4 linked regions of the Homo sapiens genome follow. The protein of the gene in region 1 purifies or fractionates together with the protein of each later gene. This does not show direct contact. Each region holds a gene or a part of one and is shown on either strand. Other genes may lie near its edges.

Region 1 (3,500 bases):
CAACAACAACAAAAGAATGATAAGTGTCAGAGCAGCTACCCTTTTTTTGACAAAGGGCTCACCTTATGCTGAAGGCTTTCCAGCTGTCATCTCACTTAATCCTCCTAGCAGCCTGCAAGGTAGGTTCTCTTACTCCTCCCGTACTAGAGAAGAGGTGAGCACCTAGCCCGGAGTACCCAGGGAGCCCTTGATATGGGCAGTTGTTGGGCTCTGTCCTTCTTCCCGAATACCCCTGGCTTTCCCTCAGGTAGGCAGCGGGGCAGGAGGTGGCTGGGTCAGAAGTCTCCTTCCCTGGGGCTCAGTGGTGGAACCGTGGCTGGGAGAACCACCGAGGCAGCCCTTTGCCTGGCGTGGGAGGTGGCAGCCACCTCCGCCCGGCTCACGACGCCTGAGCACGTGGCTCACCCACATTGGAACCTGGTCCGCGGATTTTAGTGCAGAGCAGGGTGATGACGAGGCCTGTTTTGCTGACTTCAAAGAAAAAAAGAAAACTCGGCCCCCTCTATGGGTGGGTGGCATCTCTAGAAGCAAAATTTAAAATGCAACATCCCCAGGTAAACGTCCCCTCTTTTCCATTCTCCCTTCACCCCAGGCACAGCCTGCAGAAGGGTCACTCAGCCCTCCCCGGGCCCAGCCCTGCAGGTCCCCACTGTCACCTGCAGGCTGGCCAACAACATTGACAGGCTGTACTCATAGCCAGCGTTGGCAGGAGCGCCCCACGTGCTAAGCGTTTTGCATGGATCATTTCACTTAATTCTCCTAACTGCCTCCATCACGGCCGGTCCTATTATTTCCCCCATTTCCTAGAACCGAGGTTCTGAGAGCTGAAGTGATGTACAAAAGTTCCTTGCTCCACGAATGGTGGCCACTATCATTGTTGAACCCTGTAAGAGAAACGGAGTGAGTTGAGTTATTCACGCAATTGCTTTTTTTGGCACCTGCTCCTGGTTCTCTCCTTCCCTTAATGGAACTGACTGTCTCCATTGTGGATGGAGAAGTTTGGAAGACAGAATCCAACGTGGGTCTCGTGATCGCAGCGGGGTGAGCAGGGGGCAGACTGAACCTCTGCAGTATGATGACCAAATGAAGTGCTGTGGTGTTCAGGGCAGGGGTGACGGGGTAGTAGGAAGAGGCCGGAAGATCAGCGAGGATTTGTGCCATGAAGAAAAGCTGAGGAGTGCTTTTGGGAGGAGAAAGAGCAGGGGTGTCTGTCTCAGCTCTGGGCCTTGACCCTGGGCATGGAGTGTGAGGTGGTTCTTTCTGGCCATAGCTGTCCTTAAAAACTGTCCTGCAGTCTTTCCTTGCTGGGCAGGCATGCCCATCAGTCCCCAAGAACCAGAGGCCCCTGCCCTCGGCCCCCTGTGCTGCCTGAATCGGGTGAGGCACACACAGGGTTATCTGTTTTGAGATGATGTTGCCCCAGCCTCTGGGACTGACCCCCCAACATGCACATGGTATTGCCAGTCTCTCGTGAGGTCTCCCATGCTGCTCTTAGCCGGGCTCAGCAGGAATCACCACCCCCAAGTTGCAGATGAGGAAACTGTGGCTCTGCAGACAGGAGCTGCCCAGATACAGGGCATTTGGGATTCCACCCTGGCCTGAGCAGCTGGGAATCCTGGGCTGAGAGGAGAGAGCCACACCACCAGAGCTGGTGACATGGCCGTGGGTGACCCCTGGGTAGCTCCTGCCCCTTAGAGCCTCAGTCTTCTCGTCTGTCAAATGGGGATGAAGGGCGCTTCACAGTCAGTACACTGGACCCAACTGAGGGCCTGGTGTGTGCAGGGTCGGGGGGTGAACAGACCAAACCTGCCCTTCTCCACATGGCCACAGTCTGATGGGGGAGGCTGACAATCAAGTGGAAAACAGAACAGCACTCACTGGGTCCTGTGATGTCTGCCAGTGCTGGGCGCTGAGTGACTCCATGATCTCCGCCAACCCTGGGAGCTTGGCAAGGGGGTGGTTTTATCTCTGGGTCCTGGCGTGGGGGCTGGCGTGCTTACCGCCTCAAGGAGCGGAGACTGAGGGCCTCTCTTGAGCTGGGGCAGGCCATGACTTGAGGCGGCTTCCGTGGGACTGATTTATCGGCAGCGACTCGGCAGCCCTGGGGAGCCGCGGTCTGAGGGCGTGTTAGGTCCCCCTAGCTGGAATGAATCCAGCGGGAGGATGAGTTTGGTCATGCTTGGGTTGTCAAGAACTGAAGAATAATATTCTCTCTTAAAAATATTCCCTGTGGATACCAGACTGGTTGGCTCTCTTTCTCATTCTAGGCGGAGGCTGGGGAATCCTGCACCCATGCTCTGTGACATCTGGCAAGGCTCTCACCCTCTCTGAGCCCAGGGTGGCCCTGCTGGGGTGGGGAGAAGGGGCACCCCCACTGATGGGCTTGCTGGGTGATGGGCTTAGATAATACACAGAAGTGTTCAGTTGTGTGCCTGGGATGCCCTCATTAAATCCACCCCTAATAAGAACAGCAATGGTTTCTGGCGTTAGTGCACGGCACGCTTATGGCTGTAACTTGGGGATGAAAGCGTCTTTCGAAAATTTGGCCATTTGGGTCTGTCTTACCCATCACTTGGCAGACCCAGCTTCCTCTGCCCGGTGTGTTGCTCAGGAATTTTCTTTCACTTTCTGGGTGTTTGCAGCCCCAGAGCAAAGAGTTTATCTCTCCTTTGGCAAGGAGCTTCATCCCTCGGAGTTTGTTTCCTCATCTGTAAAGTGGGCTCAAGCATTGCTACGTTCATTCCTTGAGATAATTTGTGCAAAGTGGGGGAAATAACCCCCTTTCAGATTTTCTCTCTTTCTCTCTCTCTGTGGCAGGTACTACTTCCCTCACCCCACCCCAGTCCAGATCTTGCAGTGCTTGGAATAAAATTCCTTTGGAGATATTAAGCAGGGTAGGGTGGAGGGGTCGCTGGGAACAAGGCAAGCATGGGTTCAAGAGCAAAGGTTGGGGCACTGTGCCTCAGTATTGCCAGAATCCAGGGCCTGCCATGTTCCTAGAAACCCTGCATCTGATGCCTTAAGCTTCCTGGTGTACCTTCTCCCCAGGAAGCCCTGGGTGGGGTATTAACAACATCCAGATTTCACCACTACTAACTAGCTTTGAAACCTTGGATTCAGAACCTCAGTTTCTCCTTCTGTGAAATGGGGCAAAGGCTCCTGTTTCATGGGCAGGAACACGCCCACCTAGCTGGGCCCCAGGAAGTAGTGGGGCTTTAGGGGATTCTAAGTGGCTGCAAAGCCCCCCTCACCCCCGACCCTCCCAGATATGAATGACAGTCCCAGCAGCACTGTTTGGGGGACTGTCTGTGTGCCAGGCCATTACAAGGCCCCAGGGGAGATGACATCATCCCCATTTCACCCATGGGGAAACTGAGGTCCAGAGAGGGAACATGGTAGAGCCTTGGCCACACAGTAGTGGGGCTGTGACTTCAAAGTGACCGTGCTTTGGTCACAAAGAGACACTGTTTCCTGGCCTCACCATCAGCTCCAGGAGGAGG
Region 2 (3,845 bases), on another chromosome or scaffold:
TTTCACGGAAGAAGCTGATCGAAATCACCCAGCTGATATTCAATTGACCGAGGATTCAAAACCAAGATGGGGCTGGGCGCGGTGGCTCATGCCTGTAATCCCAGCACTTTGGGAGGCTGAGGCAGGCAGATCATGAGGTCGGGAGTTAGAGACCAGCCTGGCCAATATGATGAAACCCCATCTCTACTAAAAATACAAAAATTAGCTGGGTGTTGTGGCACGTGCCTGTAATCCCAGCTACTCAAGAGGCTGAGACAGGAGAATCACTTGAACCCAGGAGGTGGAGGTTCCAGTGAGCCAAGATCACACCACTGCACTCCAGCCTGGGTGACAGAGTGAAACTCCATCTCAAAAAAACAAACCAAGATGGCCCGAATTTTGAAACTTTATACTCCTCACTACTCTGCAAAAATATCTGTGACCACTCTTCTGTTCGGTGCCCAGATGGTACACAATGAAGTATTGAGCAAATGCTTTTAGCGTTGGTTTTGGCATCCAGCCCCTTTTGGTAAATCTGCTCCAAATTCACCTTTTGCTCAAAAATTTGTCTTCTCCCAGAAGTAGATTTATTCTCTCCCATTTTATATTTATTTGGTGTGAGCCTTTTTGTTATTATTTCCTTTCTCTTTACAAAGGCGGAAGAGACGGAATTTCAACAAGCAAGCGACAGAAATCCTGAATGAATATTTCTATTCCCATCTCAGCAACCCTTACCCCAGTGAGGAAGCCAAAGAGGAGTTAGCCAAGAAGTGTGGCATCACAGTCTCCCAGGTAAGCAGCACCTCAAAAGCCTCAGCCTGTAGCCTGGCCATGGCGGGGCCTCCGGGGCAGGCTCTTAGAGGTCTTGCTTTACTGGACATTCATGCCTTGCAAGTTCCATCAGCTATAGCCTTAAAATATCAAGGTAAGCACTTGATGTGTATGCGTATAAGTGAGTTTCTAGGTAAGTACTTGGCAAAACTTGAGAAGAACCAGCAGAAGGAAGAGAAGAATAAGTAGAGTACAATGTAAAAACAGGATTAGGGTTCTTCCCATCGAGCACTCCTTTGCTTCAAATGGGTGAGGTGTCTAAAGTGTACTAGGAAAGTTATCTGCATTCCTCATGCTGTTTTTTCAAATTCAGTCAATTCCTTAGCCATTTTTTGCCCAACCCAGGAACTTTAAGAGTCAGTGAATGGAACTAGTTGTTATATAGCCTTTTAAATGAAAGAACTTAAATGTCTCCTCTTGATGTGCTGACTCTATAACTGATGGGAGTGTAGGAATTTTAACATGTCACTGCGATTACATTGGAATGGTGAACAAAATGTCACTGAATGCCCCCTTCCCCCAAAGAGCAATAACCATAACAGGTGGTGTCTGATGACTTGGAAAGATACATGACATAAAATTTTTATAGGCCTAGAGTTTTCAACACGAATATGAAGCAGAGAAGTAGGCAATAATTATGTGTACGTGTATTTTGTCCACTCAAAAGATCCACCCAAACTTCTTATTCAGTCTGAACCTCAAATACCACCACTGGTTTCTAATTGAGAACCATAGTGATAATTCTGAAATCTATCGGAGAAGGTTTTTCTTAGAATTTTGTCACATGCAGGAGAATTAAATGTACTGATATTTCCATTAAAACTGGGGAGGGGAGGGAGTAGTGAAGGCTACTGTAGCGAGAAATTTCACTTACCATTTTTCAAATGAAGTAGATGCTCTTTTATATAAACTAAGCATCTGTACCTCCTTGAATTGAATCCTGACTTCTGTTAATCCCTGCAGGGTGCTGATCCCATCAACCTGTGTTTAGCTGTACAGAATTAGGTCCAGTCAGAATATAGAGCTCCACAAAAGTATTGACAATGAAGGGACTGTCCAAGCCTTCCCAACAAACTAAGATGATTTTACAGCAGCAAATATCCTTGAAAACATTCTTTCAGATAAAGCAGAATGAATTGACTCCTTTTTAACCTGGGCCTTCCTTAGGTGCTTTGACCCAGCTGGAGGTCATTTTTAGTCTTGACAGTTCTGGGAAACGGGAACGTCAGCGGTCAAACTCAAGTAGCCTAGTTTTTTCTAGGGCTGTCACCATTCTTATCCAAATCTAAACCCCTTTTCCACAAAAAAGGGAATTAATGCTTTTTGATACTTGCTACATGTTTGAGGAATGCTTCTAGGTATGGACCACAAATATGCAGCAAATATCAAATCACTGAATTTTATCATGGAACCTTCTGCTTTTAAAATATAATTAAATTACTACTGTCTGAATTCCAAGTGTGGAATTCAGAATTTCAACTTCCTGTTGAAGGTAAAAGGAATTCTCCTGGAGGTAATTTGTAGTATAGCTGGATACAAGTTAAAATCCTGATCTGTTCCCGCAACCTTCACTTCCTTCATTATGGAAACTCAAGGTACAAATAGTGTGTCCATTAAAATCCTTATTTACATATTGTGTCACCTTTCCCTTTCCTCTGTCCATGCCAAAGTCATGCCATTCTTTCTTCCCCATCACATCTGTCTCTCCCCAAAGCAACTAAGCTACCATTGCTAAACAAGTCCAATGGAAGACAGTATAATATGATGTCATAGAAGGAGCATTAAGCAAGGAGCCTATTTTTGACAAGAGTCAACTGTGGGATCCTAGGGAACTCACTCTTTCTTTTTGGATCTTAGTTGCCCCATTTACTAATCATGGTTTGTTGGATCACATGATTTATTAAATCTTTCTCCTAATTCCCAAAGCCAGGGAATACCTCTTGGGCTGTATCATTATTGTCTTTTTTTGAAGTCACAAATTCTTTTGAAATCTACTAAAAGCTATTGATTTCCCCCATGACCCAAAACAAAGATATGTTGCCCATACACCCAAATCCATCTGAAATCCGCCTATTGACTGTATCTCCTCAGATCCCTAAAGAGCCCTTTTTCTATACCAGAGCTACTCTAAGTGTGATCCACAGAATGCAGCATCAGCATCCCCTGGGAGCCTGTTAGAAATATAAATTCTTGAGTGTCACCCTAATTCTGAATCAGAATCTTTGAGGGTGAAATCTATAATAGAAATTTGTTTTAACAACTTCCCCATGAACACTTAACTTTGAAAAGCAATGTTCTATATGCTTTATCTGAGTGATCTTTTCCATGCTCACAGCTACAAATAATACCTCCATTTGAATACCTAATGGAACTTCTCCCCTGCAGCACCAAACTCATAAATTTTACTTCCTAATGGACTTCATCATGGCTCTGCCCAGAGGTTCTTCAAAATTAACTTGTTCAAAATGTGAATCAAACTCTTCCCATAAAACCTACTATTCTTTCTGTATTTCATGTCTCATTCTGTGTCTGTTATCTATACATCCCTAGTGCCTAACGCGTATTAGGCCCTTAGTCCATGACTGTTGAGTAATTAGTTCATTCATGATAACACTCATTTTATACATTGTCCAGATCATTGTCTGTTGGACAATGCAGGAAGTCCCTGAACTGACCTAGCACCTTCCTACCAGTTCCATTGTTGTCATTTAGAAGGGTATCATTCCCACAACATGTCCCCTCTTTACCCCCTTCAGCTCATATTTTTTTTACATATAATTGGACCTCAGGTATTTCTTCTTCAAAAGTCCTCTGAAATTATCTTCATCTTTTTCCCTTTTCTTTCAGCTTGTGCAGTTATCTGAGAAAAAAAATCTCCTTACCTTTTTTCTTCTTTTCCTATCCCATAAATCAAAAAGCAACCATAATTATGACTGATTCCTATGAATAGTGAAAGTTATGTCAAGAAAAACATAAATTTCAAAGTGAAACTAGATATGCAGTGATCCTGAAATACACCCAAAAGTGTCCTTCCT
Region 3 (3,845 bases), on another chromosome or scaffold:
TTTTTGATGAATAGGGAACAAGATTTTTATATTGACTTAGTACATCTTTGGATTTGGCCAATAAAACATTCATTGAGAATAGATCTCCTGTAAATAGACTTCCTATTATCCATAATAGGATAGAAGCATAAGTTTAAGTAATGATAAATTCTTGCTTAATTTGGTACTAGATGGTGACATTGGTAGGGTTATTATTAATTTCCCCTTAATTACTTGGAGTTATTTTAAAAACATTCTTATATATGCTGCTCTGAATTTGATTCAGGTAACTTAGATTATACCAGCCAGTGGAGGCCATGTAGTTGGCTGAAAGGGCCGTATAACCTAACAGGTGTGTTAGGTCAGTCTATTCGCCCCTCCATAAGGAATATGTTCTGTACATGGGCGTGGTTCTTAATCACTCTGGAAGTATATTTCAGAATTCTGTGCATGACCCCATCTCTGGATATTCTGTTTCTCTTACTCATGTACATACTATTAGCCTATAATGAATGCCACCAAAAATTTCTCTTAAAAAAACAACAGGGTGATGTTGAAGAAGACGAAACGATTCCTGATAGTGAACAGGATATACGGCCACGTTTTCACCGATCGAGGACGGTGGCTCAGCAGCATGATGAAGATGGAATTGAAGAGGAAGATGATGATGATGATGAAATTGATGATGATGATACAATTTCTGACTGGAATCTAAGTAAGTCAGAAAGGGAAAAGCACAGTTGCCTACTTTGATGATAACTTTATTGGGGTATAATTCATCTACTGTACAGTTTACTACCCATTAAAGTATACATTTCATTGGTTTTTAGTATATTCAGAGAGCTGTTCAACCATTACCACAATCAGTTGTAGACTATGTTTTCATCACCCATACCCTTTAGCAGTAACTCCCTATTGTTCACTGGCTCTGGGCAACTACTAGTCAATATTCTGTCTCTGGGTTTGCCTATTCTAGACATTTCATGTAAATGGAGTCATACAATGCATTGTCCTTTGTGACCATCTTCTTTAACTTAGCATAAAGTTTTCACGGTTCATTTTGTAGCATTCACTTGTATTGTGAAATAATATTTCATTGTAATATGCCACATATTCTCCATTCATTGGTTGGTGGACATTTGTGTTTCTCTTTTTGTAGCTGTTGAGTTGTGATGCTATAAATACTCATGTATAATTTTTGTGTGTAGACTTTTTTTGTTTGTTTGTTTGTTTTTTTGTTTTGAGGCAGGGTCTCTGTCACCCAGGCTAGCATGATTATGCAGTGGCGCAGTCATGGCCCACCGCAGCCTTGACCTCCCTGGGCTCTGGTGATCCTCCCACCTCAGCTCCCCAAGTAGCTGGGACTACAGGTGCTCACCAATACACCTGGATGAATTTTTGTTTTTTTTTTTTTGGTAGAGACAGTTTTGCCATGTTGCCCAGGCTGGTCTTGAACTGTTGGGCTCAAGCGATCCACCCGCCTTGCCCTCCCAAAGTGCTAGGATTACAGGCGTAAGCCACTGTGTCTGGCCCAATGTGTATTCAGTTCTCTTGGGTAAACACTCAGGAGAAGGATTGTTGGGGTCATATGGTAACTGTATGTTTAACCTTTTGAGAAATAACCAGGATGTTTTCCAAAGTGACTGCACCATTCTGCTTTCCTAGCAGCATTGTCTGGAGGGTTCCAGTTTCTTCACATGCTCACTTGCTTTATTATCTCTTTATTATTATAGTCATTCTAGTGGACGTGAAGTGGTATTTTGTGGTTTTGGTTTGCATTTTCCTGGTGGACCTGCTCTTATTTTATCATTATTATATTCTTAAACTACCATTTCTCAAAAGGCTGTTTGTTTTAATACTGTAAGAACATTGCCACAAGCTTTTTTGGTTTTTCTAACATGAGTGTTTTCTGTCTGGTAATTTGCATGAAAATTGGCTATCATAGGTAATTCTAAAATAATATAAGTTGCTTTATTATATTCAAATTTATTATAAGTTGCTTTGTTATAGTCAAAATTTATGAAATATGCTTCTTAAAATATGTTAATTTCCAACCTTAGCTGCAAATCATATCACCTGTGGAGCTAGCATTCTGGCCCACGCTTCCTAATTGGGGATGAACCTAAACACCTGTGTTCTGATTTTGCTTGCTTGTTTGCTGGATTTTAAACCTCTACTGCTCTAGTTCAGGGTTTCTCAGCCTTGGCACTATTGGCATTTTGGGCCACATAATTCTTTTTTTTTTTCTACATGTGAATGCCACATCATGCATGTAATTCTTTGTTGCGGAGGCTGTCCTGCACGTTGTGGGATGTTAAGCAGCATCCCTGGCCTCTACCCAAAGATGCCAGCAGCACAAACACAGTTGTGACAACCGTTATCTCCTGGGGGAACAAAATCAACCCCAGTTTAGAGCCACTACTCTAGTTCAAAGTGTTGGGATTTCTAATAACTATGATTAAAGCAGTTAAGAACAGACATTATCAGTCTGGGCTGTGTTCTTCATTTGGTTAGATAATGCTAATTTCTCTGTTGCCTCTTCAGTTTCCTGTAACTAACATTCTATTTAGAGTGCCTAATGTGCCAGGCACTAGGCCAAGGACTTTGCATGCATATCAAAGTCTGTTTAATCATAAGTAAGAATAAAGTCATATTTAACATTTCCAACAACCTTGAATAGGCAAGAAAACTGCAGAAAGAGAGATATACCCAAGGTTAGCATAGCTAGTACTGATAGCACATCTAGTACTGGGACCCAAGTCTCACTTGTTAAGACAACACATGGTGTTTACTACTATTACAAATTACTTCCCAGTGTATCCCTACTTTCAGATTAGGGGAGCAGGATGGCTCAAGATCATTACACAGAAAACTCTACAAAATAATATACATACATGGATGGGGGAACACTTCCTCTTCACATCCCATTCTTTGTATCCTTCCAAAAGCTTTTCTGTGCGTGCTTGGGAAAACATACAGGCATCTTTTTTAGAGGAGAAGCCAGTTTTCTAAAAGTGAAATCAGATTATATGTACTCTGCTGCTTTCTTTCTGTGTATCGTATGCCTCATTCTTCCTCAGTACATACAGATTTAGATTTCCTTTTGTTGCATGTCAGTGTACTGTTTAGTTGTATGGCTCTACCATGTGGTATAACTAAGATCCTTATTGATGGGTAAGGTGTTAATTTCTGGCCAATGTAATGGTTTTGTTTTGGTTTGGTTTGGTTTTTTTTTTTTTTTTTGAGGATTTTATTATTGTCTAGTAGTTTGTGATTAGCCATTTACTATGCCTAGTTCACGTTGGAAATTTCTGATATTTTCTTAGTCCATTTTGTACTACTATAACAGGATACCTGAAGTTCAGAATGGAGGGGCTGCATCTGGTGAGAACCTCCTTGCAACATCATCTGATGACAGAAGGACACACTTAAGAGCTCAATTCACGCTTATAATAAGCCAACTCTCTTGATAACTAACCCACTCCTACAGTAACGACATTAACCCATTTATGAGGGCAGAACCCTTAAGACCTAATCATCTCTTGATAGGCCCCACCTCCCATCTTCGTTGCTTTAGGGATTAGGTTTCTAATACATGAACTTCAGGAACACGTTCCTACCCATAACAGTTAAATGATATTTTTGTTGTTCTTTTTGATTTTGTTGCTCTTGTCTAAATTATTATTATAATAAAATCTGGGTTGATTTATAGTCCCATAGTTAATTCTTTGTAAAGAGTATTTTCTAGCATGCGTTATGTTTCATGTGCCAGTGACTTTTCTTCCAGTTTTTGTGTCTAAAGTCCAGCTAAGTAATTGTCTGTTTAATTCTAGATGATATACTGCTGGAAATGTTAAGTAGAGTTA
Region 4 (3,845 bases), on another chromosome or scaffold:
CCGTGTGCAACACGTGAGTGCTGCCTGGCTACAGCCCACTTTCTCTTGGGAGACTCGGTGGGGCTCTGAGCCCCCGCTGCCCCAGGCTCCTGTCCTCTCAGATTCCGTTCTCACCTGGAGACCCTGAGAAGTCTTGGCACAGGCCTTCCACAACATCCACCTTCCTGTGGAAAGGCCACAGGCTGGGCCAGTGGCCCAGCTACCCAGGTCCCCAGTGGGGCCCAGAAGGTGCAGGAGCTGGTGGGGGTTGATGGGCTATGTTTCTAGGGACAGAGACGTTTCCAGAAGGAATGCCCTAAGATTGCAGAGAGCCCTTCTCCGCTGGCTCCCGTGACAGCTCTGGATGGGACAGTGAGGGCTGGGCTGGGCAGGCCACAGGTCCTTGCTCGGCCATTCATTTCATGGGGGCTCAGTTACCTTCTCCGTGACCATCCAACATGCCTGGTGCTGGTAGCTCTCTCCTGGAAGCACTGCACCCTGATTTCCTCAGTAAATGGGTGTCCGTTAGTGGCCCTGAGCACCTCACTTGCGTAGCATGGGAAGGAGCGCCGCCAGGCCTGGGTTGCTGAAAGCAGCCTTGGAGGCTGCAGGCAGGAGGAGGCTGGGTCTGCTGGGCTTAGCCTGGGACATGTGCGGCTGAGGAGGGCGGAAGCTTTTCCCTGATGTCCCGTTGTTGTCAGTGCACACAGGTCAGGGACAGAATGTGTGCCTGTGAGTGCGTCCTGAAAGTCATCCTGCCCACAGACATGGCTTTCCTGGCCCTGGCACAGGGAGACGTGGTCCCCAGACAAAGCTGAGTTCTGCCTTCAAGAAGCCAAGGGGAGCTTCTGCACAGGCAGCTGGCAGGCGTCCCCTTGGCTTCAGTCCTGCTGGGCCCTGCCCTCATGGCCATGATGGGTCACAGCTTGGTTTGGTTATGGGTGACACCGGGGCAGGTACAGACAACAGCTGGCTTCACTGTCTTAATTCCCCAGGAAAATGAGGTGTCACAGCCAGGCATGGCCCAGGAAGATGGGGACAGTGCTTATGGCTTTGAGGGGAGCAAGCTCAATGTGAGACGGCGGTGGCCTCCATGGATCAGGCATGGAGATGGGTCCTGAGGTGGCAGGGCAGCACCCGAGAGCTACTCGAGAGCCTTGTGTCCACTGTGGCTCTGGAGCCACCTGTGGCCAAGTGCTGGCTCAGCGCCTCTGCTCCTGGGCAGACGGGGCCTGGCACCCTTCCCAGAGGCTCTGCTCCTGCATGTTCTGTGGTACTGGGTTGGTTTGGAAAAGGGGTCCTTGGAGGAGTGTAGGATGTGGTGTTGGGCAGACCTATGTCCCCTTGGAGGGCCTAGGCCACCCAGATTTGCCTCTTGGTCCTTCTCATCTGGAGCTGGCATCATGGTGGTAGTAGATGTGTGTGAATTAATTGCATGTAATGCCTTTCCAGGAATCCTTTCAAACCAAGGGACAGAAATCCACTCAAACTAAGAGAAACATGGAGACTTCTCAGAGGGCCTCAGGGCCACTTGCCACCCAAAAGACCAGCAAGTCTGCCTGGGTCGTGTGAGGGCTCTGGGATTGAGGCGCGTCTCCTCCCTGCTAGGGCCTGTAGGACAGTCCCAAAAAGGCTGATGTCTGACTCCTAGGGAGACGAGAAAGGGGGCGGGGCCGGAAACACATTGCAGCAATAATGGCTGAGAACTTCCCACAAAGACACAAACCTGCAGACTTAAGAAGCTAAGCAAACCCCAAATAAGGCTCACAGACACGTGCAGATGCATGCAACCAAATGCTGAGAACTGGGGGCAAAGAAAAAGCCCTTGGCAGCCATCCTCTGTCAGCAGTCAGACGGCGGTGGCCTGGTACTGACAACAGATGCCGCAGTGAATGACCGTGGCACTTTTAGAAACCCAGGAGGCCAGAAGGAAGAAGGAAGCCCCACACATCTTCCAGTGCTGGGAGAAAAGAAAGGTCATCCCAGAATTCCACATCCAGTCAGTGTCCAAAGTCACTCAAAACCAAGAGCCCTCACAGCCAGCAGACCTGTTCCAGAGGCTCCCTGCAGAGTTCTCCCAACAGGAGGGCCTCCTCCCACTGAGTGTTTGTGGAGACGCCAGTGATGGTGCAAGAAGACAAGAGTAGTGTCCGGCAGTGCCTGTGCAGTGCCGTTCCCAGGGCGGCCGTGGGGCCTGTGCAGTGCCATTTCCAGGGCGGCCGTGGGGCCTGTGGTGGCGGTGGGGCTGTGGCGGCTGTGGGGCCTGGCGGCGGTGGGGCTGTGGGCAAGAGAGCTGCTATGCTCCAGTGGAAGCACATGTGTGGGTGCCATGGAGAGCATGTGGGGTTGAGTTGCGTGTTACAGCCCTTTGAGCAGGCCTTGCAGAGCTTATGTGAAGAGACGCAGTCAGAATCAGAATAGGTAAATTTAAATGAAATACAAAAACATTTCAGTGGCCCAAGAGAAAGCAGGAAAGAAGAAATACCATAAGGAATGAGAAACAGAGGCAACAAACAGCAAATAGTGGAAAACCTAAATGCTAACAGATGAACAGACGGGACTGGGCAGCTTATGAGAATGTATTTTTAAAATAACCAACTCTCTGGTGTTTACAAGAAGCTCATTTGTTGTATTTCATTCGGGATGCTGTCACGAAACATGATAGGCTAGGTGGCTTGTGAACAACAGAATCTTATTTCTTGCGGTTCTGGAAGCTGAAAGTCCAAGGTGAAGATCCACTGTGGACCAGGAAGGGGGCACTGACCACGTCACTGGATCTGATTAGCCAGATTCAGTGTCTGGTGAGGGTCCCTTTCCTGGTCCACAGACAGCACCTTCTTGCTGGAAGGAAGGCAGGGCGACGGAGCCACCAGTTCTGTTCATGAGCGTTCTACCCTTGCAACCTCATCGCCTCCCAAAGGCCCCATCTCCAGATACCCTTGCGTCTGGGGTTAAGCTTTCAACATAGGAATGTGGGGCATAAGCACCCTGTGTGTCACACCACTCTAGGTGCTGTGGTGCAGGCGGGTGAGAAGTAAGAGGACAAGATGTGCTGAGAAAACACCCATCAGAAGGAAGCGGAAGTGGCTATGTCAGTGCCAAAGGAGACTCCGAGGAAGGAAGTGACCAGGAATAAGAAGGTTATCTAATTAGAAAAGGAGCAGCTCTTGAAGAAATCCTGCCATAAATGTGTGTGCGCCAGACAACAGGGCTTTCCACACAAAGCAAACGGACGGCCTGTGTAGAAATCACATGATCGCCGGGGATTGCAGCCCTCTCCTCAGTGATGGAGCCTCATAGACAGTCAGCGAGAGCACGGAGCCCGATGACCCCACCCGTGGGTTGGATTGAAATGACACATGCACTGCAGCCTCAACAGCAGAACACCCATCTTTTCAACTTCACAAAGATTAGCCACCAAGATGGAGCATACCTGTCACAAAAGAGCCCTTAACAAATTTTAAAAAATCAAAACCATACGAAGTAAGTTTTCTGACCATGGTGGGGTTAAATTAGAAATCAGTAACAGAGAACAGGAAAGTCTCCAAACACTTGCAGACTAATACAATTCTGAGTAGTCCATGGGTCCGAGAGGATGCCTCAACAAAAAAACTTTAACAAACTGTACACAGGAAAATACAGCATGTCAGAATTTGTGAGACATAACTCAAGCAGTGCCTAGAGGGGATTTATAGGATTAATGCTTTCTTAGAAAAAGAAGATGACTTTCAGTAATCTACGTTTCCAACTTAAACTAGAAAAAGAGCAAAATAAGTCAAAATCAAGGACAAGAAAGTAAATAAGAACAGAAAGCACTGAGATTGATTTTTAAAACAATAGGGGAAATGAGTGAAATCAAAATGTGA

The links.
Region 2: the proteins of MN1 (region 1) and PBX1 purify together in Homo sapiens (affinity purification with western blotting; one study listed by BioGRID). This does not show direct contact.
Region 3: the proteins of MN1 (region 1) and TNPO1 purify together in Homo sapiens (affinity purification with mass spectrometry, with the first as the bait; one large-scale study listed by BioGRID). This does not show direct contact.
Region 4: the proteins of MN1 (region 1) and MOB2 purify together in Homo sapiens (affinity purification with mass spectrometry, with the first as the bait; one large-scale study listed by BioGRID). This does not show direct contact.

The regions. Positions count from the first base shown.
Region 1 is NC_000022.11:27,753,257-27,756,756, reverse strand, and holds part of MN1 (transcriptional activator MN1), read left to right. Parts: intron 1-3,500. UniProt on the Homo sapiens protein: Transcriptional activator which specifically regulates expression of TBX22 in the posterior region of the developing palate. Required during later stages of palate development for growth and medial fusion of the palatal shelves.
Region 2 is NC_000001.11:164,806,907-164,810,751, forward strand, and holds part of PBX1 (pre-B-cell leukemia transcription factor 1), read left to right. Parts: intron 1-635; coding exon 636-771; intron 772-3,845. UniProt on the Homo sapiens protein: Transcription factor which binds the DNA sequence 5'-TGATTGAT-3' as part of a heterodimer with HOX proteins such as HOXA1, HOXA5, HOXB7 and HOXB8. Binds to the DNA sequence 5'-TGATTGAC-3' in complex with a nuclear factor which is not a class I HOX protein.
Region 3 is NC_000005.10:72,882,539-72,886,383, forward strand, and holds part of TNPO1 (transportin-1), read left to right. Parts: intron 1-525; coding exon 526-694; intron 695-3,845. UniProt on the Homo sapiens protein: Functions in nuclear protein import as nuclear transport receptor. Serves as receptor for nuclear localization signals (NLS) in cargo substrates.
Region 4 is NC_000011.10:1,476,561-1,480,405, reverse strand, and holds part of MOB2 (MOB kinase activator 2), read left to right. Parts: coding exon 1-13; intron 14-3,845. UniProt on the Homo sapiens protein: Stimulates the autophosphorylation and kinase activity of STK38 and STK38L.